4 linked regions of the Homo sapiens genome follow. The protein of the gene in region 3 purifies or fractionates together with the protein of the main gene of each other region. This does not show direct contact. Each region holds a gene or a part of one and is shown on either strand. Other genes may lie near its edges. The genes, in order: CEP120, BTBD1, C9orf78 and NCDN.

Region 1 (7,023 bases), on a different chromosome or scaffold from region 3:
CTGTAGGCAGTTGGACAAAGGTAAGTATTTGTGTATCTAAACAGAAAAGATACAGTAAAAATATGATATAATTTTATGGGACCATCATTGTATGTGAGGTTCATCATTGATGGAAACATCATTTCATATTTGGTGCCTGTGAAATTTAGCATTCAGTCTAACAATTGTGTTAGACGACATTCCAGGTAACAAAAAACATCTTTGACTCCATTGAGGGAATTCAAAGAATTTAGTTCAGAAAAGACTTTAGGTCAGAGTTGATAGGTATGAACACATGTTTCTCTCTTCCTTAGGATTCCATTACTGGTTGAACTATGGCACAAGGATAAAATGAGTAAAGATTTACTTCTGGGAATTGCGAGAATCCAGCTTTCTAACATCTTGTCTTCAGAAAAAACTCGTTTTTTAGGTTCTAATGGTGAACAGTGTTGGCGTCAAACTTACAGTGAAAGTGTGCCTGTTATAGCAGCACAAGGGTAATGCATTTCACAGAATTGGTATTTGCTTTTCTTTTCAATTCATGGAATGATTTTGATTAGTCAGCCACCACTTCACCCTTCCATAACCTCTTTTTTCTGATCCACCACTTCACCCTTTCATAACCTCCTTTTTCTGATCTTCTCTGACCTGTGGCAGCTATACCCCACTTTGCCCTTTAGCTTTCTGATACTGATTTCACCTCACAGAAGTCAAGAGTCTGTGTTACCATGGTATTGTAATATTCAGATGGCTAATTATTTTCCTTCCTCTCTCTAGCTTGAGAATTTTAAATGCAGGATCTATTTTTTTATTTTGTAATTTGAGGTTAAACTTTATAATGTATTTTATATTATTTTGCACTGGGAATGGCTAAGACTGTTTTTCCACTTAAAATATTTTACTCCTACCCCAAATCAAAAGTCTGAGGACATTATAGATATTTGGCAGTCAGAGGCAGTTTTTAAAATAATTATTGGTTTTTTGCCCTGAACTTCATTGCCACAAAGAAAAACTTGCGTTTTTTTAACATATTTTAAATACAGTAAAATATTTGTTGAATTATCCTTTCAAAATTAACAATAAAAATTTAAAATTTAACTTAACATTATATATCATATGCCCTTTATCATTAAAGATAAGACTAAAAAAAAGAGAAACAAGGCTCAGTGAAATTTTAGCTCTAAAAGTATTGAAATGTCTTTCCTTATTCCTCACCATTCATGGCCATTTTGTTTCAACTCCTATTATTGAAGAATCTTTCTTAAAAATTAGCATTTTTTTGTCGTAAGTAGAAGATAATAAAATCACTAATAATTGAAGCTATTTTAATGCTGCCCGTTTGTTATGAATATTAACTTTTATTGCCATACTTTGTAGACAGAAAGTTTTAGGAGATTTACTTAAGTGAGAACCTTAGATACTCTCAGGAGTTTCTGTCAGATACAGTAGTGCTTCATTTAACTTTATTCATTTCTTCTGAAATCTGTGAGATTAGAAGAAGAAAATACAAAAGTTGGTTAATTAAGAGTTCTAATTGTGTGAGAACCATTCATTCAAGTTTTGTTTGACCAGAGTATATTTGATTTAGACAAAACCATGGTTTTGTATTACTAGCATTTTATTTTCTTCTAATATTTTATCTTGTTCTCATTTGGTTAATGACAAATGCTGCATGCAGTTGTATGATACAAAGAGGTGCTCATTATGCTCATACTAACATATAATTATCCTAGAAGCATTGCTTATGTGCCAATTAGGCCTAGAGGCATTGCTTATGTCTAGTAAAATATTTATGAGTATGTACATCCCAGGAAAAGTAGAAAAAAGAATTCAGAATAACCAATATAATCAAGAGTAGGGGAATTGTTAAGTATATTTTACTACATAAATTCATTTGTATATTTTACAGGCAGTAAAAAAAAAATCACATTTTTAAATTAATGTTATGATGTGAGAAAATGCCCCTGATGTAAATAGGAAAACAAGACAAAACTGTATGAAGTCAGCATGCATGTGTGCATGTATATCTATATATAAATAAAACAGGAGGGAAATAAACTACATATTAGCAATAATTACCTGTGGGCAGTAAGATTTTAAATTTCACCTTTATACCTTTTAAAGCTCTCATAGGGGTCATTTTGTAGTAAATGTATGCGTGTATTTAGCAGGGTGTTTGTGATGATCAATTTATATATATATGGAAGGTGTTGAAGCCTACAGAAGTTGCTGCAGTTTCAAAAACAATAGAGTTAGGAGCAGAAAATGTTGCTTACTTCCCATTGCTAAAGCACTGGGGAAATAAAAGGAAAAATAATATAAAGTATTTCTGTGAATTTTAAGGTATTTCTTATTTTATTTGTAGATCAAATAACAGGATAGCAGATCTTTCTTACACAGTGACTCTAGAAGATTATGGACTAGTAAAAATGCGTGAGATTTTTATCTCTGATTCATCTCAGGTAAATATAATTGAATGTTATCAAATTTTTTTTAAAAGGAATCTAATGTGCATATGTGTGTGAGTGTTTAAATGTACTTTTTGGTTCATCTCTTAGGGTGTATCTGCCGTACAGCAAAAGCCGTCTTCTCTTCCTCCAGCACCTTGTCCTTCAGAGATCCAGACAGAGCCTCGTGAAACGTTAGAATACAAAGCAGCACTTGAGCTAGAAATGTGGAAGGAGATGCAAGAAGATATATTTGAAAATCAGGTTACTTTTTAAATGTTACTTTAAAAAATCTGCTTTGTCTGCTCTGTATATTTTTCCTTCTCCGTAGCAAGGTTTAATCTCTATGTTCTGTAGGTACCTTATCTAACTTCTTTGAATGTCAACAATGCTTTACTTAAAAAAATTTGAGAATCAAAAAATACCTGAAATGTGGCACCTTGGCAGAAGCCACTCAGAATTCTGTAAACTTTGTTCATGATTATTGGGTAAAATTGGGAAGTTACTCTTTAAATTTCATGTCCTCATTTGGCATGCCCTCCTGGAACCTTGCATCATTAGTCTCCAAACAAGAGTTAGAAAGCACAACCCACTGTTAGTTTTATAGTTTCCTGAAGTGAACTCAAATGGGCATTATTTGCCTCAGGCATCCTCCTTTTTTTTTTTTTTTTTTTTAGAATAAAAAAGAATGCCTGAAAAAATCATATTAGTGATCAGCATCGGTTATTTAACTGACAACTGATTCATTTATTTGACATATTTGGGGTTTTTTGGCGACTTTATTTTTCTTCCTTTTGTAGCTGAAGCAGAAAGAACTGGCTCATATGCAGGCTCTTGCAGAGGAATGGAAGAAAAGGGACCGAGAAAGAGAATCACTAGTAAAGAAAAAGGTAATAACTTGTGTAAAAGTGAGGAAGAGAAGGAAGAATATTAATGATAATATCTTGTATTTGCGTTAAAGACAGTCTCTGGAAGGAATAACTAATTTTAGTGGTGATATGTTGGCATGGAAGAAGTGAGTGGTGGCTCTGGATAGAGAAGGGAGGCGTTTCACTGTAAAGTATTTTGTGCTTTTGGAATATGCAAATGTATTACCTATTCAAAAAATATATAATATAGGCCAGGTATGGTTGCTCACACCTGTAATCCCAGCACTGAGGGAGGATTGCTTGAGGCCAGGAGGTTGAGACCAGCCTGGACAACATAGTGAGACCCCCATCTCTTAAAAAAAAATATGTGTGTGTGTATATGAATATACAAAAATGAATAGAGAAAAACCCTGCTGATGTATAAAAAAGAAATAAAAGCACATTTCAATATATATAAAACTACATATTATAATCTGTAAGTTAATAGAATGCCTCAAACGTTTAAGCTATTTTTAAGAATTATGAAATAAATTACATTTTTAAAAATGATAACATGAGACCATCTGATTTTATTCCTGAAGCAAAAGCTTAATATTTATCCATTTACACTGAAGTTATTAAATAAAACAACCCTAACAGACTTTCTTCAAATATTCTATTAATAATTTTAGGACTTTAGAAATACTCTTATTAGTGGTTAATCAGTATTCAGCTTCAGATTTGAGGGGATGGCTCTACAGGGCTCCAGTGCTCCTTCTCTCTATAACCCCCTCCTCTCATCAACTCTAGTTGCCTCAGCCTCTCTGGTCTCCATTCCGTTTTCTCAGCTCAGCAAGATTGCTAGTGTCTGTTTGGGTTCCCCTTCCTTGAGCTACTACAGTCTTCAGGCAGTAAGCTAGATATATTGTAGTGGTTGCCTCATTTATTTCTCACCTTTTAGGGATCATTGTCCTGTGCTGCCTGTTGCCCAATGTCTAAAAACAGTTGTTTCATAAATGTTGTTTAAGTTGTGTTTATAAAGGAGGGCCATTTGTCTTTTATGGGTGGAAACAGAAGTACACAGGCCTTTGATTTTAAAATAACCAAATCAGCTTTTTCTAACTTAATTCTCACCATTAAAAACTTGAATAACCAGTGAACTTTTAAAAAAGCTGAAAGACAAAAATAAGAGTATTTCAAAGTCTCTATTCTTTAGAAACGTTCAGATAACCAAAATTACAATAATTAGAAGCCCTGACATACATTTTAACATTATGCGAGTTATCCTGTTATTAAGTGAGTTTCATATTAAGTAATATTTACAGACCTCACCTATTAGATATTCATTGAATCTGGGGGAGCTGGAAAATACCATTTTAATTTTTAAAATTTTTAACCTAGCCTTTAAGACAAGATGAGTTTATCCTTGAATCATTTCTCTTCATTGTGTTGAAGAGTATTTTAGTATTGAGGTCTGCAAAATTCAAATCGGGAAATACTTGAAAAGTTAATAAAATTACTAGAACCGTGACAAATTCACTTTGTGCCATAATTAAACTTTCTGTGAAAACTCACCAAGTAATTTTTGGTTTGTTGTCATTTTGGTAATAATGATCTTTTCAGCTAAAATTTGTAATTGGTTTCCATTTATACACTTCTACCCTTTCAGCCTGAAATGATGAGTTCCTGGCTAGTTAATAACTCCAGTCAGAAAACAATATGATGCCTACATAATAAGTGTTTGTGCTGTTTATTCAAATTAGTCATATGATAAAGGTAGATCTGAGATTGAGATTTGCCATTTTCTTTCAACCTAAGTGCATTTTTGAGACCAAATACTTTAATTCATTTGTCTTAAAGTATCCTGTCTTGCATGGGATCAGTTTTTCTTTTAAATTTTATCAACCACTACAAAATCAAGTCAGTAGTGAGAAAAAAAAGTTGTTTTTCAGTATGATGAAATATTTTAAAGCTAAATACCCTGAGACTCTCACTATAGTATTTTTTAAATGTCAATTATATGTGAGCCTTTTCGTTTATTTACCTGATTTGTCTTAAAAAACGATGTATAACTTCTTTCACACTTTGAAAATTTACCTGAAGGAGTAGATATATACGTGGTTCTTGTTCTGCCCTCTGGAGCAACTGAGATATACTCTGTCTTACATATGACTGCCTGTCAGATAGCTGAAGATAGTCATTACCCACAGAGAAGGAAGACATCAGTTCTACATAAGGAAGTGTTCTGTAGATAAGATCATGCTTTCACTTTGGTGAAGATTAGTGGATATTGCCAGGTAGACTCAAAGGGTATTCCGGACACAGCCCCTTGAGGAAAAGGCAAAGAAGTTTGAAATACACTCTGCATTAAGAAAATTATATGTAGTTTGATGTTGGAAGAGGGGAGGAAAGAGTGTGCCTCAAGAAATAAGGTAAGAGAGGTTGATACCCTGGAGAATAAATGATCTCGTAAATCCATTATGTAGAGTTTAGACTAGATACTGTAGGCTTTTCTTAGCCAGGCCTTCCTGAGAGAATGAAGCCCTTAATACCCTAAGTGATCCATTATTGGTAATAAATTAACTTTATCCTATGCATCTAAAATGGTAGTTATGTACCATTTTAGGAGAGGATGGAGAAAATAATTAAATCATTTTCTGTGTTTTGTGGTTCAGATGATAAACCCTGGTTGAGAACGGTAGAAATATCAGAAATTTTTTAAATGAAGATTTTTATATAAAATAATTAGGTTTTCATTCTATAACAATAATTCTGATGGAGGTACAGTGGCTAGAATAGAGGAATGTGAAACTAAAGTCCAGGAGACCAGGAAAGCAATATGTATAAAAAACGAAAGCCAAAAACTAATAGTAGTGAAAGGTTATGGAGAAAAGATGGGTGGTAAAGAGATGATTTTAAGGAGGTTTAGGACCTCAAGCGCTAAGACGTCCTCACGGCTGCTCACAATCCTACTGCTTTCCCTAGTCAATTCATTTTCTCACTCGCCAGAACAGTTAGTTTTTGTCTTAACAAACAATCCTTCCTCATCCTTACCCGGTTTATCTCTGTCTTTGAAACACTTCCTCTATTTGGCTTCTTTGACTATATTTTTTTTTTGGACTACACTTTTCTACTGTTGTGTTCCGCTGTCTTCACTGGTCTCTCTTTCCTAATTTTCATGCTAGATTCTCCTCATGTTGGCTTTATTGGCTTGTCCCACAGCCCAGTCCTCAAATACCATCCTTTCTTCTCTCTGTATACTCACTCCTTGGATGATGTCATTCACTCTCTTGGCATTATATACACCAAGACACCCACCACACGCACCCCCATCCCTGACTTCTTCCCTGGACTCCACACTTGGCTATTTAGTTGCTTACACTACATATGCGTTTCAAATTTAGCAGTCTTTTGTTTCCATCCTCTGTAAATTTAGATTAAGTCTAACATACTAGAGGATGTGGAAATCATAATATGTGAATAACAGTTAAAATTTGTGTTTATCTTGGAGAAGAAAAAAGACCAAGAGGAGGAAATATGACCATCACCAGTCTCAAATTCATAAAAGCACATTTTTTTCTTTGAATTGGCGGATGTAATTTGTGACTTTCCTATTCTTAGGTCCTCTGTTTCAGTGAAATGATGTGTATTTTTGAATTTGTGTGTGTTTTAAGTTTGGGAGAAGGTAGGTAACTTTTTTTTTTTTTTTTTTACTATATTTTAGGTGGCTGAATATACTATTCTAGAAG
Region 2 (7,567 bases), on a different chromosome or scaffold from region 3:
TTTTTAGTAGAGACGGGGTTTCACCATCGTGGTCAGGCTGGTCTTAAATGGCTGACCTCATGATCCACTTGCCTCAGCCTCCCAAAGTGCTGGGATTACAGGTATGAGCCACTGTGCCCGGCCATCTTTTATTCTTTTTTAAAAAATTCATTTATTTATATATTTTTTGAGATGGAGTTTCATTCTTGTTGCCCAGGCTGGAGTGTAATGGCACAGTCTCAGCTCACTACAACCTCCACCTCCCGGGGTCATGCAATTCTCCTGCCTCAGCCTCCCAAGTAGCTGAGATTATAGGCGCCCCCCACCACGCCTGGCTAATTTTTTTGTATTTTTAGTAGACATGGGGTTTCACCATGTTGGCTAGGCTGGTCTCAAACTCCTAACCTCAGGTGATCTGCCCACCTCGGTCTCCCAAAGTGCTGCAATTACAGGCATGAGCCACTGGGCCTGGCCAGCATCTGTTATTCTTTAATATTGACAAAAACTCCCTTGACCAAACTTTTTATTCAGGCTCCTTAGGACTTTTTTCTCAACTAGGCCTCTACCTTGGCCCATATCCTGTCTTTGGCCTGCCCAACCCAGTCTTAGAAAGAATCTCCCCACCCTTAACGCATCATCTTAGTAATTTTCCACCCATTGACCCCCCTTCACTTTGTTCATTGGCTATAAATGCCCAGCTGTTGATGTTGTTTTCAGAACTGTGCCTGATCTCTCTCTCCTGTTGCAATGCTTCCACTGCAATCATCTTGAATAAAATCTTTCTTACCATTTTAACTAGTGTCAGAATAATTTTTTTCTTTCTTCTTTTTTTTTTTTTGAGATGGAGTCTTGCTCTGTTGCCCAGGCTGGAGTGCAGCGGCACGATCTTGGCTCCCTGCAACCTCTGCCTCCCAGGTTCAAACGATTCTCCTGCCTCAGCCTCCCAAGTAGCTGGGATTACAGGCGTATGTCACCACACCCGGTTAATTTTTGTATTTTTAGTAGACATGGGGTTTCACCATGTTAGCCAGGCTGGTCTCAAACCCTAACCTCAGGTGATCTGCCTGCCTTGTCCTTCCAAAGTGCTGGGATTACAGGCGTGCGCCACTGCAACAGCCCAGAATAATTTTTTTCTTTAACAATGCCTTCAAACAGTTGTTTACACACACACACACACACACACACACACACACACACTCCAGCTTGTATAGTTGTTTTTGGTGGGAGGGTTAGACAAGTTGGTACATTATGGCTGAAACTGGAAGTCTACTTACTTCTATAACAAACATGTATTATTTTAAACATTTCCTTTAAAACAATAATAACATGTTTAACGAGCTCATCTGGAACCAGTCTTCCCTGAAGGTTATTATTTTGAAAGTTTTAATGTCCTGTATAGATAATTGAATTGTCCAGGTTTTCTAGACGAGTACATTCCTTTGATATTTTCAAAGCCACTAATAGAATTACTCATATTTTTAAACTCCACAATTATGTTTATATATCCTTTCTTATGTCCAATTCTATGTTTTTTAATCTCTTTCCTTTTAAACTAGCTAGTATAGTATACTATAGAGTGTGATCTATGAAAGGCCTGCATTAGAATACCTGGGATGACACTTAAAAGTAGTAAGTGAATTAATTTTCTGAATCATCAATGGATACTGAAATCAGTAGGTGAAAGCTTTTTGGGGAAACAGACTGGTCAAACAGTCTCAGAGCATCACCCTCATGGATTACTTATTACATAAGAATCATACACCTTCATAATGGAGGGATCTGACAGTCACAGCCTCACCAGGTCATCAAGCTTAGCATCACCAACATACGCTTTCTGAAGTGAGGCAATGAAGTACTTAACATCACCAGCATATTCTTGCCTAAAATGTTTAACCTGGAATCTAACCATGAATCATACAGAATCCACCAGACAAATCCAGATTGTGGAGCATTATACTCCACAATTCCCCGGACCTTCAAAGAAGTCAACACAGTCAATAATATGTGAACATTGATTTGATCCTGGATTGGAAAAAAAGTCATCTGTGAAAGATATTTTTGGCCAGGCACAGTGGCTCATGCCTGTAATCCCAGCACTTTGGGAGGCCAAGGTGGGCAGATCATAAGGTCAGTAGATTGAGACCATCCTGGCTAACACGGTGAAACCCCGTCTCTACTAATGACAGGTGAAGCCAACTGGACTTCTGGGTAGGGTGAGGACTTGAAGAACTTTTCTGTCTTACAAGTGGTTTGTAAAATGTGCCAGTCAGTGCTCTGTAAAAACACACCAATCAGCACTCTGTGGCTAGCTAGAGGTTTGTAAAATGGACCAATCAGCACTCTGTAAAGTGGACCAATCAGCACTCTGTAAAATGGACCAATCAGCATTCCGTAAAATGGACCAATCAGCACCCTGTAAAATAGACCAATCAGCACTCTGTAAAGTGCACCAATCAGCATTCTGTAAAATGGACCAATCAGCAGGACATGGGCGGGGACAAATAAGGAAGTAAAAGCTGACTCCACCCCCCCCACCCCCGCCGGCCCCTCCCCTCCTGCCCCCACGCCCAGAGACTGCAACCACCCGTTGGGGTTCCTTTCCATGACATAAGGGCTTTGTTCTTTTGCTCTTCAGAAGAAGTCTTTGGGTCCCTGCCATCTTAAGAGCTATAAAACTCATCAGGAAGGTCCACAGCTCCATTCTTGAAGTCAGCAAGACCACGAACCCACCAGAAGGAACGAACTCTGGACACACTAAAAATACAAAAAAAAAAAAAAATCAGCAGGCTTGGTGGCAGGTGCCTGTAGTCCCAGCTACTCGGGAGGCTGAGACAGGAGAATGGCGTGAACGTGGGAGGCAGAGCTTGCAGTGAGCGGAGATCATGCCACTGCCCTCCAGCCTGGGCAACAGAGCAAGACTCCGTCTCAAAAAAAAATTTTTTTAGAGACAAGTGGAGAAACAAATATTAACTGTACATTAAATATTATACATAGGACCAGGCCTGGTGGCTCATGCCTGTAATCCCAGCACTTTGGGAGGCCGAGGCGGGTAGATCACGAGGTCAGGACTTGGAGAGGAGCCTGGCCAATATGGTGAAACCCCGTCTCTACTAAAAATACAAATAATTAGCTGGATGTGGTGACACGCACCTGTAACCCCAGCTACTCGGGAGGCTGAGGAGGAGAATCGCTTGAGCCCGGAAGGCAGACTTCATGCCATTGCACTCCAGCTTTGGCAACAGAGCGAGACTCCGTCTCAAAAAAAAAAAAATCATATATAGATGATTTGATGATATGGTTAATTTTGTTAGGTGTGATAATGGTATCATTAGTAGCATGATGTCCCTTTGTCTTTAGGAATTGCCGGCTGGCAATGGGGAAGGGGTTGTGCATCCACTATTTCAGCCCCTACTACTTTAAGTCTCTTCCCAAGCACGTTCCTCTCCCAAAGAAGTTACCATTCTAAATGCCTAACAGCTGGAAGTCCCCTCTGGTGGTTTCACAAGTGGAGTGATTTTACAGGAGAAACCCAGGTTTGGGGTTTACTATTTACTTGACGGCATTTGTAATCTGTAAGGCTCTTCCTGCAAAGAACAGGTGTTTCCAACTATACGTGCCTGGTCAAGGACTATTTCTTGGGTTTTCTACGTTCTGCTTTTGACAGCTGACTTAACTCAGGGCCTGCCTCACTGAAGGGAGAAAAAGGAAGGCCTCGGTCCCCCAATCATGATGACCGGGTTGTAAATACTGCCTGGGAAGGGATAATACAGCCTTTTCCATTGTGTGTGTGTTTTAGTTTTTAATTTTTTAAATTTCAAGCTTAGGCAGTGGTTCAGTGCAAGGACTGAAAAGCGCTACAAGAGAAGGTGGGCAAGCACGAGGGGTTTCAAATACAGGGGTGGAAGCAGTAGAAGGAAATGTCTCTTAGGCCCAGAGGACGGAACCAAAGGGTCAATTAGAAGGGAAAGGGACCTGCGGACCTGGGGAGAGGTCACTGGGGTTCTAAGCCTTCCACCTCTGCTTCCGGAATTTCCACGGGTTTCGCGGCCTTCTGGAGCGGCGACTTGGCCACGCTTGGGGTACAGGGTTGTGGGAAGTCATGTCATCCCCTCCCTCACGTGTTCCCTTGGCCATACTTTCCTGCCCCTCCACTTCCAGGCAAAACACTCCTCGGGACAGGCCTTGGGACATGTCCCAGATACACAATGGGGGCGCTGGACTTGGTGATAAGGGGCCTGCAGGAAGAAAAAGGCAGCCGTGAGAGCCGCCTGCAGATCCACGATGCATCTTAAAATTACAAATTCTCAGGCCCTACCCCAGACCTACTGAGTCAGAATACCCAGGGCACTGAGCCAGGGGGTGGGTGCCCGTAGGCCCGGCAGCACCCAGCCTGCAGAAGCTCCACCTCCGGGAGCGCTGAGCTAGGACCAGCTCCCCACGCCCCTGCCCTGGGGCTGCCGGGAGTCCAGTCCTGTTACACCTCCCGCGGCCGCGCACAGCGGCAACCCGGGCGTGCGGGGGCGCGCGCGGTCAGGGAGGGGCCTGCGGAGGCGCGAGGCCCCCGGAAGCGCCTTTCCCGGAAGGCAGGGAGGCAGCGCCGGCCTCCGGAGGCGGCCTGGGCGATGGCGGCGGAGTTTTGTCCATAACGTGGGCAACCGCGCAGCTGGAGGATGGCCTCACTCGGGCCTGCCGCAGCTGGGGAGCAGGCGTCGGGGGCTGAGGCGGAGCCGGGCCCCGCGGGGCCGCCGCCGCCGCCCTCACCGTCCTCTCTGGGGCCCCTGCTCCCCCTGCAGCGGGAACCTCTCTACAACTGGCAGGCGACCAAGGCGTCGCTGAAGGAGCGCTTCGCCTTCCTCTTCAACTCGGAGCTGCTGAGCGATGTGCGCTTCGTACTGGGCAAGGGTCGCGGCGCCGCCGCCGCTGGGGGCCCGCAGCGCATCCCCGCCCACCGCTTCGTGCTGGCGGCCGGCAGCGCCGTCTTTGACGCCATGTTCAACGGCGGCATGGCCACCACGTCGGCCGAGATCGAGCTGCCGGACGTGGAGCCCGCAGCCTTCCTGGCGCTGCTGAGGTGAGCGGCAGCGCGGGCCGGGCCGGGCCGGGCCGGGCCGGGCCGGGCCGGGCTGGGAGATCCCCGGGGCCCGGCCTACCCGGACTCCCGGATGACCTTGGGCTGGGCTCTTCTGACCCGCCCGGGGCCTCAGTTTCCTCCCGAGCCGTTGATGCTCCGGAGGGTCGAAATCGAAATCTGTGAACCAGGACGGCTCAGTCGCCAACTAAACGTTAGTGTCTTCATTAGGCAAGCGTGCGTTTTACCATTGAAAGGCGTTTCGCATTCCAATTATGGATTGTCGCTCAGACTTCAGAATTAGACAAGTGGCAAGGATAGAGGGGCAGATCAGGTTGTCCTGATTGCCCATTTGCGAAGTTTTATGTTTTTGTTTGGGGGAAGAGAGTAGTTGAAAAATCTTGCAGGACTGATGTTTTGGGGTTATTGTCACCCCCTTCCCCCCGCTTTTTTTGAGACAAGGTCTTGCTCTGTTGCCCAGGCTGGAATGCTGTAGCGCGATCATGGCTCACTGCAGCCTCGACCTCTCCGGGCTCAGGTGATGCTCCGACCTCAGCCTCCCGAGTATTTGGGACTACAGGCACGCGCCACCACGCCCGGCTAATTTTTTTTATTTTTATTTTTGGTAGAGAGAGGGTTTCACTATGTTGCCCAGGCTGGTCTCGGACTCCTGGGGTCAAGCGATCCGTCCACCTCGGCCTCCCAAAGTGCTGGGATTACAGGCGTGAACCACCGCGCCTGGCCACTTTTTTGTTTTTGTTTTTGTTTTTCATTAACGTATTAGTTGTCAAGACCCAGGAAAGTAAATACGAAAACAGACAAGTGAGGCTTTACCTGCTTTGTGTTTCTACACACAAGGTCACATTTGCTTATAAATGAATCCCTCCCTTGATGTTAGAATTTGCTTGTTGGTTATTTGAGGATAGTAGATTGACATCTAATGAAAAGGTGATTGTTTGGCATTACTAGCTTTTAATCACAGCCATCCTGTTAGGGAGGCGTAAGAATTGTTTACCCCAATTTCACAAATGGGACTGAGGCCCAGAAGAGTCAAGTATCTTGCCCAAGGTAACAAACAGCTAACTCACACTGAAGACCATGTCTGTTTCATTATACTAAGATGGTTTTAAATAGCTGCCTGAGTAGAACGTGTTGTTATTAAAATGGCAGAGTCTTGGGTAGTACTGAAGCAAAAACAGGCAGGTCAGTGGGACAGAATTAGATACAAAGGTTCACAGTTGAATCAGAAAGATGAACAAGAAAATGAATGTAAAGTTCACACAACTAGAAACAAATAATAAGATTCCATTGACGAATGGATAAAGGACAGGATAGATAACTTAGAGAAAGAAAAAATACAACTAATTAACGAATGTTTTACCTGGCTGGTAATTAGGAAGTGCAAATTAAAAGACAGTGGTATTTTTTCCTTCCATTAATCCCACCAAAAAATTTAAAGGTAACATCTGAACAGCATTTTCTGACAAAGATGGTGGTAAAAACCCTTTTGGAAAACAGTTTGGTGCTATAGATTTTCTTTCCACACGTAAGAAGCATTCAAGTATTGCAAATTGCATACAAAAATATTTACAGCTTTATTTATAGTAGTGAGGAAGTAGTCAGCTGTAGGGAATGGTTAAACAGTGGTAGGTTCACTTGATGAGATATAATGCAGTCACTAAATATGACGGATAGCACTTGAAACTGCACCATGGTTACAACGTGAAAAGACATGGAACAAACATATACCTAGAGACCGGGATAAAAGGAAACATACCAAAATGCTAAGCAAAGTCACCTGGAGTAGTGAGATGAAAGTACCTTTTTTTCTTCTTTATTCTTTGTTTCTGATATTTTCTGTAATTTAGTTCAGTTACATTTATAAAGGGGGGGGACCTCAAAAGCTAAAATCCAGGTCATTTTAGTTTAAAGTTCACCAGGAGGATTGGGTATAGTTCATTTGGATTTTCTAGACTAGAAGTAGTTTTCAAAATGATCTGTGGGCCGTCTGCATTATAATCTTCTGGGGTGCTTATGAAATGTGTAGATCTCATCCTCATTATATACCGTAATATTTGGAGGTGAGACCTTGGTAGCATTTTTAACACTCTCCCTAAGTGATACTTATACAAACTAAATTTAAGAACCACAAATCTAAAACTATTTTGGGGCAATTTTTTACTTTGAAAAAATATTGAGATTACTAGGATAAGAATGTAGAGGAAAAATACATATTTTAATATTTTCACCGAAGCTGCTAATTAGTGCTTTCCCATCAATAGAAAGTAAGTTAATTTTAGAGTGTTTGAAATGTAGGACAGTGCAATTTTTTTTTTCACATTGTAAAACATTTTTTACATTTTTAAACTTTTTTTTCATTTTTACATTTTCAGTGTGTTTTATTTTCCTAGCATTGTATTTATCCTTCAGGTTCTGGTCATTGTTCTATTTTGAAATTGATATCTGGACTGATTTCTAAATTTAATTTTGGCTGGCTGTGTAACGTAGATGTTGTTGTTA
Region 3 (7,949 bases):
AGGCCAAAAGGGAAAGACACCTGTGCAGCTGAAAGAACGTGCTTCCAGGTGCAGCCACGCAGAGTAGGACCTACTGTACAACAAGTCAGCAAGGTGCAGCGTGTGCCCCGCCCTCCCGGCCCACCAGAGCCTCCTCTCTTGGGGCAGGAGAGCACAGGATGGGGGGAGGAAGGCCTGAGACTTTTGGCAAAGAGCCCACCATTGCTGGCCCCAGGAGACCTCCAAGATGCTTCAGGCTCATAAAGGCAGCTTTCCTTCCCTGGGCCTCCAGGGTGGGGGAAAGTGCCACTCCACCCACAGGGGCAAAGTGGAGGGGCAAGGCCTGAGGAAGGGCAGGGGAGGGACCAGCCAGCACAGCCTGTGGTCCTAGGTAGGCAGCACATCTGGACCTGGCTGCCTCTGGTGCCTGTTACTCATTGTTTTCCCAGAGGTTCTGGCTACATCCTCCTCCTCCCAGCGAGGAACCAGTCCCTCAGGATGGGGAGGGCGACACTTCTGGGCCTCCCACCCACACAACGATGCCCACAGCCCTGCCCACGCTGACCCCAACCACATTAGCCATCTCACACCCCCAGCCCCGCACAGGGTGTGTGCCCACCCCCTCCACAGTCCCCTCTGGCCCTCGCACACCCTTTCTCTCCCTCCTGCTGTCTTTACTCTACCTCCACACAACAGCATTCTCCCTAAGTCCCAGACACACCCACCCCTTCCCTTAACCCAGTCCTCACTCGGAGGCCACCATCCTCTGACTCTCGAAGCAGAGCCCTCAGGCCTCCCCATGCCTCCACACTTCCACAGTCTCTGCTGCCCACACACTTCTGTGTCTCCTCATCGCCCTTCCCCCTGCCCCACGGCCCTGAATATTGGAACTGACACTAACATCTTAGTCTGGTGTTCTCACATGTGACCTCACTGGACCCTCACAACCACCCTGGGAGGTGGCAAGGTTCCAAACTAAATCCATCTCCATCACTAACAATGGAGACACCGAGGCTCAGAGAAGTGGAATAACTGGCTAAGGTCACACAGCTACTGAGCTGCAGAACCAAAATTCGAACCCACGACTACCTGCCCTGAAGCCCATGCTCTGAACACTCAGCTCCACGATGTCACAAACAGCCCCGGCCAGCCTGGCATGGGGACGACCTTCACCTCCCCAAATCCAAACACGCGTACTCCAAGGAAGCTTCCTCACAAGAGCCTCTTCTGAGTCATTCTTCAGAGCATTTTTCTGCTCAGCTTAACTTCCTTCAGTCTAGGATATGACAGTATCTCCCTGCAGCTCAAAGCCTGCTACTACCCTTTGCTCTGAGCTCTGTCCGGAAGAGTCCCTTAATTGGAGAAGGCGTGGGTTTGGGGCTACCCTAGGCTGCAGCCAGTCACTGGCCCAGGTCATTAAAAGCCTCACACTCAGTGGTGAGTAAGCATGAGCAGAAACTCAGTCTCGAAGCTCAGACTAGAAACCTTAGAAAAAACTCACATTAGAGATGCGGAAACTAAGAACTAGGAAAATCATGATTTCTGGGGCCTGAAATCAGATCCTCTCTTTTCAGGCAGCATGATCTGCAGCTGCCTTCCCCCATGCAATCTCAGAGTTTAAAGGGGTTTAGAAACCATGCATCTTCCCCTTAAGGCACAACTCTGCTCTGTAAAAGCCATACTGGGTTGTTCTCCAAACCCAGTTTGAGCAGTCGTTGATGATAAAATCACCCTTTTCCCAGAGGGCAGCTCTAGTTGCTACAAACCTAAGTCTTTATAATCAATGGAAATTGGCTCTCCTGAAATTTCTATTTATTGAGCCATGACTGCTCACTGGAGCCAAAGAGCACTGCCACTTTCCTGCCTTTAAATATTTGTTGTTAGCCGGGCACAGTGGCTCACACCTGTAATCCCAGCACTTTGGGAGGCTGAGGCGGGCGGATCACTCAAGGTTAGGAATTTGAGACCAGCCTGGCCAACATGGTGAAACCCCGTCTCTACTAAAAATACATAAATTAGCCAGGTGTGGTGGTGGGCGCCTGTAATCCCAGCTACTCAGGAGTCTGAGGCAGGAGAATCACTTGAACCTGGGAGGCGGAGGTTGGAGTGAGCCAAGATCGCACCACTGCACTCCAGCCTAGGCAACTGAGTGAGACTCCGTCTCAAAAAAAAAAAAAAAAATTGTTGTCAACGTGCATGGCTTCTCCAAGTTTCCTCCTTCATGCTAATGAGAACCAGTTGGATACTGTTTGTCTTGCTAAGGTAAAAGGCTAAGAACAGCCTGGCTCTTTCATCACTGTTAAATACCCCACAATCAGGACTTGAGTTCAGGGTGTACACTCTAAATAAAAGCTTTTGTAAAATAAAGTTCAAGCTTACAGACCCCTAAAACCACCAGGCAGTGACTGGAACCCAAGGCCTATCATTCAATCCACTGCTTTATCTGTCATGTTTCCAACCAAATCCCAAACCAGAATGCGCTAATTTTAATTTGCAACTCAACCTTGCCACCCTCCCGGAGGTGATTCCCTTGTTTTGCTCTATTTGTTTCTTTTCCACAGCACTTACCATCTTCTAACACACTTTACATACTTTACTGTGAGAACATACACTCAACTAATCAGGGATCTTTTGTCTCTTTTGCTGACTTATTTCAAGCACTTAGAACAGTGCCTGCTCATATAGTAAATGCTAAGAATCTGTTGAATACATTGATCCAATAAATACATTTATTGGATGCCGACTATAGCTGGGCTGTGAACTGTATCACGTTGCTGGATCCCAAATCCAATCGGACATGAATGCTCCCTGAACCCTGAAACAAGCCAACATTTCATCTGGCTCCAGAAAGGAGCTAGGAAACCAACCAAAACCTAGGTTGAATCTGTACATTTTCTTAAAACAACTGAACTCCCAAACAAGACTAAGACCTTGGATTCATCTTTGAACTGCATAGAACCTGTATTTCTCGGAGGGTCCTTTTGAGAGACAGTCTCATCCTACGCTTAAAAGGGCCCAGTGAGACTTGGGCTGCAGTCTCTTGGCAAAGCCACTTACTGCCAGATTCATAGCTGCCACTTTTTCAGCATTCCTTTTGCTAAAGAGCACTCAATTAGATCTGCCACAGCACAGGTGGTGGTTATCACTGGGTCCTCTGGCCTCATGGAGCAAGGGTGGGAGCAGCTCATCTGTACCCTGGGACTTCAGCTGAGGAGGAGGGTCCAGAAATGCCCCTGGCCTTCTTGCCCTTTCCTTAGTAGTGTCCAGTACCCCCTGGTGGATGGGCTGCTTGATGGGCAGATTCAGAGCCACCTCTGAGAGCGTGAGAGCTGCAGACGTTGACCCCCTGGACTCCTGCAGCAATTCCCAAGGAGCCTCTCCATCATCTGACAGGGACTCCGTATCCAGTGAGTGCACGTGCATCTGGGTTTGGCTGAACCAGTCTGCAGAGGGCAAGACTTTGAGACTTTAATATATGGCTTTTGACCAAAGATAAAACGCTGGTGCAAGAAGTCCCGAGTCTACTATTTTTTCCAGCCCAAGGAAGAGAAGAACAATCTCAGTGGAGACTGTTCCAGAGAAAACGTAAGGCATTCTAGAAATGCTGCCCTGCTTCGGAATGGTCTTCCAGAAAGGGGAACCCCAGACAGCCCCCATCGGCCCCTCCCCCTAGCCAATGAGATGTAACAGCAGCTGCAGCAGCAGCAAACATCTACTGCACTCCTACCGTGCCAGGCCCTGTGCAAACCGTGCGGCAGAGACTGACCTGCAACCAATTCCTGTTCCACCTCCTAGCTGGGTAACTTGAGGCGTGCACTGCCCCTCGGAGACTCCGCATTCTCATTTGTAAAACGAAAAACAATCTACCTCAAAGGATTGCTGGGAGAATTCAATGAGATGATGCTTTGCCCAGGGCCTGCCACATAGTAACTGCTTAATAAGAGGTAGTTCTCAAAGTAAGGGATGACACTGAGAAAAGGAAAACTACTGTTACTTAAGGGGTTCTTAAAAGTCCTAGAAGCCATTATTTATGCATTTAGGTATTTCCTAAGCGTTTGCTGATACCAGTTTTTCAAATAAACTTTATCCTCACAGCATCTTCGGGGTGGAAGGGGCAGAGGGTAGAGCGACAGACCTGCCGAAGGAGGAAAACCAGACCCGTGAAGGTCCAGGGGGGTGGCCGGCAAGCACCGAGGAGGAGTCCCCCGGCTCAAACCCTCTTGCGTGGCTTCAAAACATCAGACGCGCCTCTCCTCGCGGAGAAGCTGGGGGCCATTATTTGTGAGGCAGTCGGCGCTGGGACTCTAAGTCAGCACCGCAGAGAAGTGGTCATCTTTTGTTCCGAAAGAAAAAAACGCACGTCAGGGCTCAGAGCCCGAGGAAAGAAAAGTCAGCGCCCGAGACGCGAGACGCCACGCGGATGCTTTCAACGCTAGGTCAGGCCCCGGCAGAAATGAGAGGGGGGCGGCCCCGGTTCTGGAGAAGCCACGAGCCCCCAGGGAGCTCAGAGTGGGGTGGTGCTGGGGCCCAGAGGCCCCCCTGGGCGCCGACCGGAGGAGGGGAGAGGGGCGGCGGCGGCCGGGGGGGTCCCGGGCTCCGCTCACCGGGCCGCTGCGTCTGGCGTACCTGGCGAAGCCAGGCCCTGTCAGCCCGGAGCCGGGCTGGGGTCGCCAATGCTCAGAGGCCCGGCCCACAGAAGCAGCCGGTGGCGGCCCGGAACTCACCTGCACTCGCAACTGCGCCGCCGCCGCCTGTCAGTCAAGCGCGCCCCCTCTGAGGCGACGCGCAGGGTTGTGGGGCCGTCTGGCGACGCCCCACCTCCTTCCCTCTGCCGTCCAATCGGAAGAGGCTGACGCCAGGAGAGGGGGCGTGGCCACGCGGACTGTGCGTGCCGGGGGCGGGGCCAGACGGGGCAGGCGCTCTGACCGCTCTGCCGCGCGCCGGAAGCAGCCTGGGCCGCTGCGCAGAGGCGCGGCGGCTGTACAACTCGGCCGTTGTCACCATGCCGGTCGTCCGGAAGATTTTCCGTCGCCGCCGGGGCGACTCGGAGTCAGAGGAAGATGAGCAGGACTCAGAGGAGGTTCGGTGCGTTTGGGGCGGGGCTCCCATAGGCTTGGTAAAGATAGACTTGTTTGGGGGACTCACCACCGGCTCGGCGCTTCGCTGACATTGTTAACTGTGAGCTCGGGTGGTGGTTCCTTCTGCGGACGCAGAAATTGAGGCTCAAGGGGTGAGGCCACCGCCCCAAGCTCGAACGGTTGAGAGAGATGCCTCCGGGATGCGCAGTGGCTCTGACTCCCGGTGGGTCTAGGCACAAGGTCGTCCTCTGGACCACTGTGCTGGTGGCTCAGTAGCTGGGCTGGGATGCCCTCGAAGGTGCCTTATTGGCTCTGTTAGCTTTGGATTCCGCGGGGAATCACTCAGCTTATGCATTGCTGCTTCTTCTTCTTTTTAAAGATTAAAACTGGAAGAGACCAGAGAGGTACAGAACTTGAGGAAGAGGCCCAACGGGGTGAGGTGGGTACCACGCGGGGAGGAGGAGGAGGCGGCGGGGACGACAGACACATCCGCGTCCGGGTCGCTGTCACAAATATCTCCTCAGACGTAGATTTTTCTCTTGACACACTGTACACCTTCCACTGCCCAACTTGGAGAACAGCGTTCTTTGCAAATGTTTAACCAGGACATGCCCTGAGCTGTGTCGTCTCGGGGTGTGCTCCAGAGATACAGAAACAGATCACTAACTCGCGTTTTTTATTAAAACCAATTAATTGTGAAATGCATATCGATCGTTAAGAGTTTGTATAATTTAGAAAAGTATAGTCAAGACGATAAAAAGCACCCATAATTCTCCCATCCGGAAATGATCAGTGTTAACATTTTTTTTCCTTGCAGAGCCACCCAAGAATGCACTGGTATTAATATTGAATACTCTTTCCAATCTGTTTTTTTTCGTCTCTCTCTCTCAGATTGTGAACAACTTTCTATGTACTTTTATTCCCTGTTCTTTTCAACTCATTATGACATTGTGGGCATTCACCCATATTGTGGAATATTTTTCAGAAAGCCTTAATGGCTGCATAATATTCCACCAGATGTGTGTATTGTAATTTGTTAACAAATCCCCTATTTTGGGACATGTAGGTGATTTTGTAAATTTTTACTATCAAATAAGGCTGCAGTGGATATTCTCTTAAATTTATCTTTAGCTGCACTTTCCATGATGAGAATATCTTAGAAATGAGATTTCCAGGCCAAGATAATGCCAAATGGCTTTACAGGAAAGTGGCAAAGTGTACCACTTCACCACCAGCGCACCCTTCTTCCAGCATCTGCGGTGCTCGTTGAGCCCTGTCTTATGCTTATAGGCTTTTCCAGCCGGCTTGCCTACCCACCCCTCAAATCCCACCCTTGCACTAATGTTGCAATCCGCATACCTGAGAGGGTTCCTCCTTATCTCTGAATTATGCCATTTCTCTCTCTCCCCCTCTCTTTTTTTTTTGGTTTTGCTCAGTGCTGTGGCCTTGCTGGTGGGAGAGAAGGTACAAGAGGAGACCACTCTAGTGGTAAGTTATGGGGTCTTCCCTGAGTAGTTATGGCAGCCCTCCCTGCAGTGCTCTTCAGTGAGTGAGCGTGCTTCACAAAAAAAAAAATTCCACTACCATGTATTTAGATGCTTCCTCTTAACTGTGTTTGCTTTCTGCAGGATGATCCCTTTCAGATGAAGACAGGTGGTATGGTGGATATGAAGAAACTGAAGGAAAGGGGCAAAGATAAGTAAGTTCAGGACAAGCTTAGATGCAAATTCACCTTTAGCGGCTGCCTGGGTCTAGGTTCCCTCAGAGAGCTGGGGCCTGTAGCAGCAGCATTAGTAGGACATCTTGAAGCAGGTTTTGTGCTTTGCAAAGGGTGTGTTATTTAAAAACAAAGAAAGCAAAAAGTCTTTAAAAGTTAACTTAGAGCCAAGTTGGTAGACTCCTTTTGTAAGAGTGTATTGTAGGCGTGATGACTCATGCCTATAATCCCAACACTTTGGGAGGCTGAGGTTAGCTTGAGTCCAGGAGTTTAAGACCAGCCTGGGCAACATAGTGAGACCCCTGTCTCTACAAAAAAAAAAAAAAGTGTGTATGTATACACACACACACACACACACACATATGTACACACATATACACATATGTATATACACACATGTATATACACATATACACACACACACACACACATATATATATATACACACACGCATATATATATGTGTGTGTATATATCTGGGTGTGGTGGCATGTGCCTGTAGTCCCAGCTATTCAGGAAATTAAAGTGGGAGAATCACTTGAGTCAGGGAGGTTGAGGCTAGAGTGAGCCGCGATCACACCACTGCACTCCAGCCTGGGTGACAGAGAAAGACCCTGTCTCAAAAAAATAAAATAAGTGAACCTATGGGGAAGTTTCATATAAAAACAATTAACAAAAATAATAAATTCAGGCCAGCTGCGGTGGCTCATGCCTGTAATGCCAGCACTTCAGGAGGCTGAGGCAGGCGGATTACCTGAGGTCAGGAGTTCGAGACCAGCCTGACCAACATGGTGAAACACTGTCGCTATTAAAAATACAAAAGTTAGCCGGGCATTGTGGTGGGCACCCGTAATCCCAGCTACTCAGGAGGGTGAGGCAGGAGAATTGCTTGAACTCGGGAGGCAGAGGTTGCAGTGAGCTGAGATTGCGCCACTGCACTTCAGCCTGGGTGACAGAGTGAGACTCCGTCTCAATAAATTAATAAATCAAACATTCAAATAATTCAAAAATTAAAAAAATAAAAGTTTACTGTGTACTTTTGTGACAACTATATAGCATTTACATTGTATTTGGTATTATAAGTAATCTAGAGATGATTTAAAGCAGATGGTAGTGTGTGTGTAGGTTAGATGCAGATATTATACTATTTTATGTAAGGGACTTCACTATCTGCA
Region 4 (6,504 bases), on a different chromosome or scaffold from region 3:
GGAAGGAGGCGGAGCCCGACCTGCTGGCCGTGTTGCGGGGCCTCAGTGAGGATTTCCAGAAAGCTGAGGATGCCAGCAAGTTTGAGCTCTGCCAGCTGCTGCCCCTCTTTTTGCCCCCGACAACCGTGCCCCCTGAATGCTACCGGGATCTGCAGGCCGGGCTGGCACGCATCCTGGGAAGCAAGCTGAGCTCCTGGCAGCGCAACCCTGCACTGAAGCTGGCAGCCCGCCTGGCACACGCCTGCGGCTCCGACTGGATCCCGGCGGGCAGCTCCGGGAGCAAGTTCCTGGCCCTGCTGGTGAATCTGGCGTGCGTGGAAGTGCGGCTGGCACTGGAGGAGACGGGCACGGAGGTGAAAGAGGATGTGGTGACCGCCTGCTATGCCCTCATGGAGTTGGGGATCCAGGAATGCACTCGCTGTGAGCAGTCACTGCTTAAGGAGCCACAGAAGGTGCAGCTCGTGAGCGTCATGAAGGAGGCCATAGGGGCTGTTATCCACTACCTGCTGCAGGTGAGGGTGCAGTGACCCACAGAGGGGGCCCAGTATGGGGGGAGCCAGTGCTGGAGCTGGGAGGCAAGGGGGAGGAGAATAATGGGGAGACAGCGAAGCTGCATGTCCACACAAGCTGATACTGTAGCCAGCACTCCAGGGAGTAGTGTGCGGCCCAACCTCCCTCTCTCTCCCTCCCTCCACACAAGCACCATACCACACACCATATGTGCACTCACATCACAGTACACACACACGCACACACACACAACACAGTAACCTCCCACTCAAACGCTCCCCCCAATACACACACACTACACGCCACACACCTCTCCCCAACACATGCACACAAGATTGAAGCAGTCTGTTCTGCTCACTCCATAGCATTGTTTTATACACGCACACACCCGAACTTCTAATGGTGCAGGGAAGAGAAGCAGGGCTGCCTGGTTCCTGGCCTCTATAGAGGTCTGGCTAGATCAATTCGCCTGCCTCCCCTACATCCCCTCCTGCCTCCCCGCCTGAGAGGCCAGCTGTCCTGTCCCACAGGGATTCAGTCATGACTCTGGTCTCTTTAATGGCCTGCTCCAGCCACCGAGCTCACCAGCCATATATTCCATGCACCACGCTAAGCTCATGTCTTTTTTCTGACTTAGCACAAAAGAGAGCATCCCCTCACTCCCACCATTGGGAGCAGTTACACAGTAGCCAGGAACCTGCCCTCCCACCCCAGGTCAGAGCTGCTGTAAAGGGTGTTTAACTTAGCTTTTGACCTATGAATTTCCTTCTAGCCTTGAGACACTCCAGAGGTAGGGAGTTAGGGAGATGTGACTGGAGCCTCAGCGAGTACGGGGGCATGTCACTCAATTCACTCAGGCCCAGTTCACTCAGCAGACGTGTGTGGAGGGCCTGGCTCACTCTGTGCCAGTCCCTTGTGTGCGTCCCTACCACATGCTAGGTGCTGGGTTCATGGGACAGAATAAAGGTTGGGGCCTGCCTTTGAAAGGCTCACAGGCCAGAATTTCCTTCTAGTTGTATTATTTCTAGCTGGCTGGCCTCTGGCAAGGCAGGGAGGGTCCCTGGTCCTGCTCCATCTCAAGGGGGTCCTGTGGCAACAGGTGGGGTCAGAGAAGCAGAAGGAGCCCTTTGTGTTTGCCTCGGTGCGGATCCTGGGTGCCTGGCTGGCCGAGGAGACCTCATCCTTGCGTAAGGAGGTGTGCCAGCTGCTGCCCTTCCTCGTCCGCTATGCCAAGACCCTCTACGAGGAGGCCGAGGAGGCCAATGACCTTTCCCAGCAGGTGGCCAACCTGGCCATCTCCCCCACCACCCCAGGGCCCACCTGGCCAGGAGACGCTCTCCGGTGAGTCTGTAGTTACAGTCTGTCCAGCTAGATCATTCTACCGAAAAGCGTTAACACAAGGACACCCCTCCCCACAAACTGAGCTGTGCCAGGCTTCCTGATTGGGCCATGAGATATCCCTTAGGGTTATTTCTGTTTTGGGGGGCTTGTTCCCACAGGACTCCTCGGCTGCCAGGTGTCACTTGCCAACCCCAGATTTCTCAGTTAAAAGAGAACTTATACTTATTGAGCACCTACTACGAGCCAGGTATTTTGCTATACCCTTTACCAAAATGATCTCATTTGGTCCACGTGGTAAATATAACAGAAGTCTCATTCACATATGAAAGATTAGGAAACTGAGGCTCATAGAGATTAAAGTCACTTGCCCACAGTCACACTTTGTGGCAGAGCCCAAGTTTGGTCCTGGGTTGTGCGACTCTGAAGCTTGTACTTTTTCTGTGGTACCTGCGAGGATGTGTCCTTCTCCCCTACTTCCATTTCTCTTAGGCAAGGTGCCCTAAAAAGGGAATCTATGTGCCTTCATCTCTCCCAATCCCACACACGTCTGTCCCTTCCACATCCCCAGGCTCCTCCTGCCTGGCTGGTGCCACCTGACCGTTGAAGATGGGCCCCGGGAGATCCTGATCAAGGAAGGGGCCCCCTCGCTTCTGTGCAAGTATTTCCTGCAGCAGTGGGAACTCACATCCCCTGGCCACGACACCTCGGTGCTGCCTGACAGCGTGGAGATTGGCCTGCAGACCTGCTGCCACATCTTCCTCAACCTCGTGGTCACCGCACCGGGGCTGATCAAGTGAGGGGCTCGGGAGAGGTGGGGGAGGAGGCCGGAGGAGGCAAAGGAGGCTGCCCAGTTGCCTCAATTCTCAGTCTCCTACTTTGCCCCCCATGCCCATGGATTTGTTAGTGGTAGCATGGGGGTCTCAGAGTAGACATAGCCAGCCCCGCACAAGGATTCGGCATGCTGGAACCCCCAGGTACTGTCTCAGCATGTCTGCTTGTTCCAATCTCTGCCCCCCAGATGCTATGTTTGGGGCCCAAAGTTAATCACCCTACTGCCTAATTTCTTGCCAAGGGCTTGATTTGGCTGTACTAGACCCCCACCTACCTCCATCCTTCCCCCCTTTCTTTTCCAGGCGTGACGCCTGCTTCACATCTCTAATGAACACCCTCATGACGTCGCTACCAGCACTAGTGCAGCAACAGGGAAGGCTGCTTCTGGCTGCTAATGTGGCCACCCTGGGGCTCCTCATGGCCCGGCTCCTTAGCACCTCTCCAGGTAAGAACTGGGGATCCAGTCCTGATGGGTGAGGACAGAAGACCTGGGTGGACCTCCTGTGTTTGGGGCAAAAGTCACCATTTTTAGAAGATGGTTTTGCAGCATTTTCTAAGCAAGAGGAAATCTTTGCAGTGTATCTCCATCCCCTACCCCCACCGTTCTTCCCAAAATGCTAACATTCTCTTTCTTCTGAAGACTTTTAAGGCAAAGTCTGGTGGGTGTTAAGTACAGACCTGCTCACAGGCACAGGCATAGGCACCTGGAATCCCTGGCAGCCAGAGGAATCTGAATCCAGTGTTTTCAAGGTGGAGCCGCCCCCACCCAGGCCTTGAGTCAGAAACCTGACTTCCTTCCATTGATGTTTTTCTCTGCTCTGCTCGGTACCTCACCCCCATCAGTGACAGCCTTCAGCACTTGGTGTCCCTCTATGCACACCTTCTCCCTAGCTCTGCCTCACTCTGGCTGTTTGCAGGGGGAGGGACGTCCCCTCCAGCCCCTGGCAGCCCTCCGTGTCTCCCTCTTTGGCTGTGGGTGTCTGCTTGGGTCCCTCTGTCCCTGCCTGTTCCCTGTGCCCCATCTGTCAGGTTGGAGGAGCTGAGCAGATGCCTGGGAACAGGGCGTAACATGCCCGTACCTTCCACTGCCTCTGTGTTCCTTTTGAGGGGTTCCCAGCAGGGTACCCCGTCATGGGAAGGGGTGCACATCCCTGTACACCAGGAGCCCACTCTGCACTCTCAGTCCCAGGCTGCATCTCTGCAGCCCCCAATTTCATGGTCCCAGTTCTGGCTCACCCTCAAATACCACCAGGTTAGGTTGACAGCTTCCTGGAGAGCACCTGCAGTGTGAGGGTCACCCCTTGAACAGCCAGTAAGCAAAGCAGGGTCACTTGCTTATGTTCCTCTCTGGCGCCCTCTTCTGGCCCAAGGATCAAATGGTGCAACTCCCTTAACCTGTGTCTGAGCTCTGTGTCCAGAACCCTGAGGGGTTCTCTCTCCCATCTGACCCTGTGACTCACCCCCACCTCCAGTGCCGGTAGAGGTCTTGGTGGTTGAGTGTACCAAGATGATCACATTTAATTCTCACAACAAATTTCTAAGATGAGCACTATTGGCCCATTTTACAAGTAAAGAAACAGACCCAGAAAAGTTAATTACCCAAGGTCACACAGTGAGCATCTAAGGCAGGGTTTCAACGCAGGCAGTCTGATTCCAGGCTGTGCCCTGGCTCCTGCATGTGTCTACACAGAGGACTAGGGAAGGGTCTGACACAGCAGCTGGCCTGTCCGATTCATGCCCCACTCCTTCCGTTACCTTGCAGCTCTTCAGGGAACACCAGCATCCCGAGGGTTCTTCGCAGCTGCCATCCTCTTCCTATCACAGTCCCACGTGGCGCGGGCCACCCCGGGCTCAGACCAGGCAGTGCTAGCCCTGTCCCCTGAGTATGAGGGCATCTGGGCCGACCTGCAGGAGCTCTGGTTCCTGGGCATGCAGGCCTTCACCGGCTGTGTGCCTCTGCTGCCCTGGCTGGCCCCCGCTGCCCTGCGCTCCCGCTGGCCGCAGGAGCTGCTCCAGCTGCTAGGCAGTGTCAGCCCCAACTCTGTCAAGCCCGAGATGGTGGCCGCCTATCAGGGTGTCCTGGTGGAGCTGGCGCGGGCCAACCGGCTGTGCCGGGAGGCCATGAGGCTGCAGGCGGGCGAGGAGACGGCCAGCCACTACCGCATGGCTGCCTTGGAGCAGTGCCTGTCAGAGCCCTGAGGGGTGTCCACCGGGGACAGACCCAGGGGCGGGCAGAGAGGGAAGGAGGGAGGAGGCATCTTCCCTGAAGCCCCCAATCTGGCCCCCCCCTCCCCAGACTTCCTCCCCAAAACACCCCAGCTTTCTGGCTTTTCTGAGGGCAAGGGCATGGTGCCCACCCCTCAAGTGTAAGGAACTGCGTTCCGCCCCTCAGGCCCCCATGGGGGCAGGGATCGGCTTGGAAATCAACGTGGTTGTCCCCGCCAGGCCGGGGAAGGTTGGAGCAGCCCCCAGGGAGGGGGGCACTAGGTGTCATTGTGCCCGATGTCTGGCTCCCCTGCAGGAGGGAGGCTCCAGGGTAAGACAGGGCTGGCAGGAGCAGACTGCCTCAGCCCATGTGCCCTGCCGGCCAGGGCGTGGGCTCCCCTCGGCTGTGGTGCCTCCTCTGGCCCCCCAGGTCCACGTCCTTTAAATTGGCCCTTTGGCTCTTGCCCTTGGCTCCCTTGGGCAGACAGCAGGCTTAGGCCATTGATATCGCAGTTCTTCCTATCAGCTTCAGTGACCCAGGGTCTGAACTGCCTCCATCCTAGGGCAACCTGGGGCAGACAGGCCTGGTGGGGGGTGGGGAAACCTCCTTCCACCTGAGCTTGCTTGAAGGGACCCAGAGTCTTTGGGCCCAGATCTTTAAACCTTTGTGTCGTGTTGCAGCAGAGTGACGATGGGGGTTGGGGGGTTATTTATTTTGCCTGTCCTTATCCCTGCTTGGACACCTGAGCATCTGATTCCTGTCCCCCTGGTGCCATCTGGCCTGGCTGGAGCCAGGAACAGGAGGGACACTTCCCCAGAATCCGCATGTTTCCCCAGTGATTACACTCCACTGCCACCGTGGTGCCTGGCTTTAACTCCCACCCCTGCTATGACTCCTCTCTGCAGAGACGCGACTGGCGGCTCCAGCAGGGACTACCTTTCTTATAAACCCAGGGGGACCACACACACACACACACACACACACACACACACACACACACACACACACACTCTTGATCCCTTGCTTCCCTCCCCCAGTGCGTTCTGTGATCGCCAAGTTCAAAGCTGTGCACATGTGGACACTCAATAAATGTTCATTGGTGACGAGAAGCCTCCTGCGTGGTCTGCCCTGCACCTGCTCTCTCCCTTCCAGGCTCCATCAGTTCACAGCTACCAGGTGCTGAACACATGCCCTGCTAAACACATCATGAGACCTCATTCAGCCCTTCCAAGAATCCTCTGAAGGGTTCTGATTTTACAGACAAAGCAACTTTGGCATGGATAAGTGATTGGCTCAAGGTGTTGCCGCTAGTCAGTGCCAGAGCCAGGACTCCACACAGGCCATCCGACTCCCCAGCCCACATCTTTCACTTGTACAGCAGATTGCCAAACTCATGTTGATGTGGCCAGGCCTTGTGGGGGCTCTGGTGCTCTCAAGTACAGATGAAACACTGCACCCCCGCCCCCATGTCACTGGGTTGCTGCCAAGTGGCCCTGCCATATCCTCCCATTTTTAAAGAAGTCAGGAATCCTAATTTGTATGTGAAACCCAACTTTTGAATGTCAGTAACTATCTTTAATTAAATAACTACTGATCCAACAAAACATGCAGTCCAA

The links.
Region 1: the proteins of C9orf78 (region 3) and CEP120 purify together in Homo sapiens (affinity purification with mass spectrometry; 4 studies listed by BioGRID and IntAct, with this or other methods). This does not show direct contact.
Region 2: the proteins of C9orf78 (region 3) and BTBD1 purify together in Homo sapiens (affinity purification with mass spectrometry; 3 studies listed by BioGRID and IntAct, with this or other methods). This does not show direct contact.
Region 4: the proteins of C9orf78 (region 3) and NCDN purify together in Homo sapiens (affinity purification with mass spectrometry; 2 studies listed by BioGRID and IntAct, with this or other methods). This does not show direct contact.

What each region holds. Positions count from the first base shown.
Region 1 is NC_000005.10:123,378,404-123,385,426, reverse strand, and holds part of CEP120 (centrosomal protein of 120 kDa), read left to right. Parts: intron 1-293; coding exon 294-476; intron 477-2,344; coding exon 2,345-2,441; intron 2,442-2,537; coding exon 2,538-2,690; intron 2,691-3,226; coding exon 3,227-3,316; intron 3,317-6,998; coding exon 6,999-7,023. UniProt on the Homo sapiens protein: Plays a role in the microtubule-dependent coupling of the nucleus and the centrosome.
Region 2 is NC_000015.10:83,064,234-83,071,800, reverse strand, and holds the start of BTBD1 (BTB/POZ domain-containing protein 1), read left to right. Parts: upstream 1-4,548; 5' UTR 4,549-4,649; coding exon 4,650-5,050; intron 5,051-7,567.
Region 3 is NC_000009.12:129,832,254-129,840,202, reverse strand, and holds the start of C9orf78 (splicing factor C9orf78), read left to right. Parts: upstream 1-4,927; 5' UTR 4,928-4,981; coding exon 4,982-5,064; intron 5,065-5,436; coding exon 5,437-5,496; intron 5,497-6,493; coding exon 6,494-6,545; intron 6,546-6,685; coding exon 6,686-6,756; intron 6,757-7,949. UniProt on the Homo sapiens protein: Plays a role in pre-mRNA splicing by promoting usage of the upstream 3'-splice site at alternative NAGNAG splice sites; these are sites featuring alternative acceptor motifs separated by only a few nucleotides. May also modulate exon inclusion events.
Region 4 is NC_000001.11:35,560,783-35,567,286, forward strand, and holds the end of NCDN (neurochondrin), read left to right. Parts: coding exon 1-512; intron 513-1,609; coding exon 1,610-1,851; intron 1,852-2,419; coding exon 2,420-2,644; intron 2,645-2,984; coding exon 2,985-3,127; intron 3,128-4,444; coding exon 4,445-4,881; 3' UTR 4,882-5,997; downstream 5,998-6,504. UniProt on the Homo sapiens protein: Probably involved in signal transduction in the nervous system, via increasing cell surface localization of GRM5/mGluR5 and positively regulating its signaling. Required for the spatial learning process.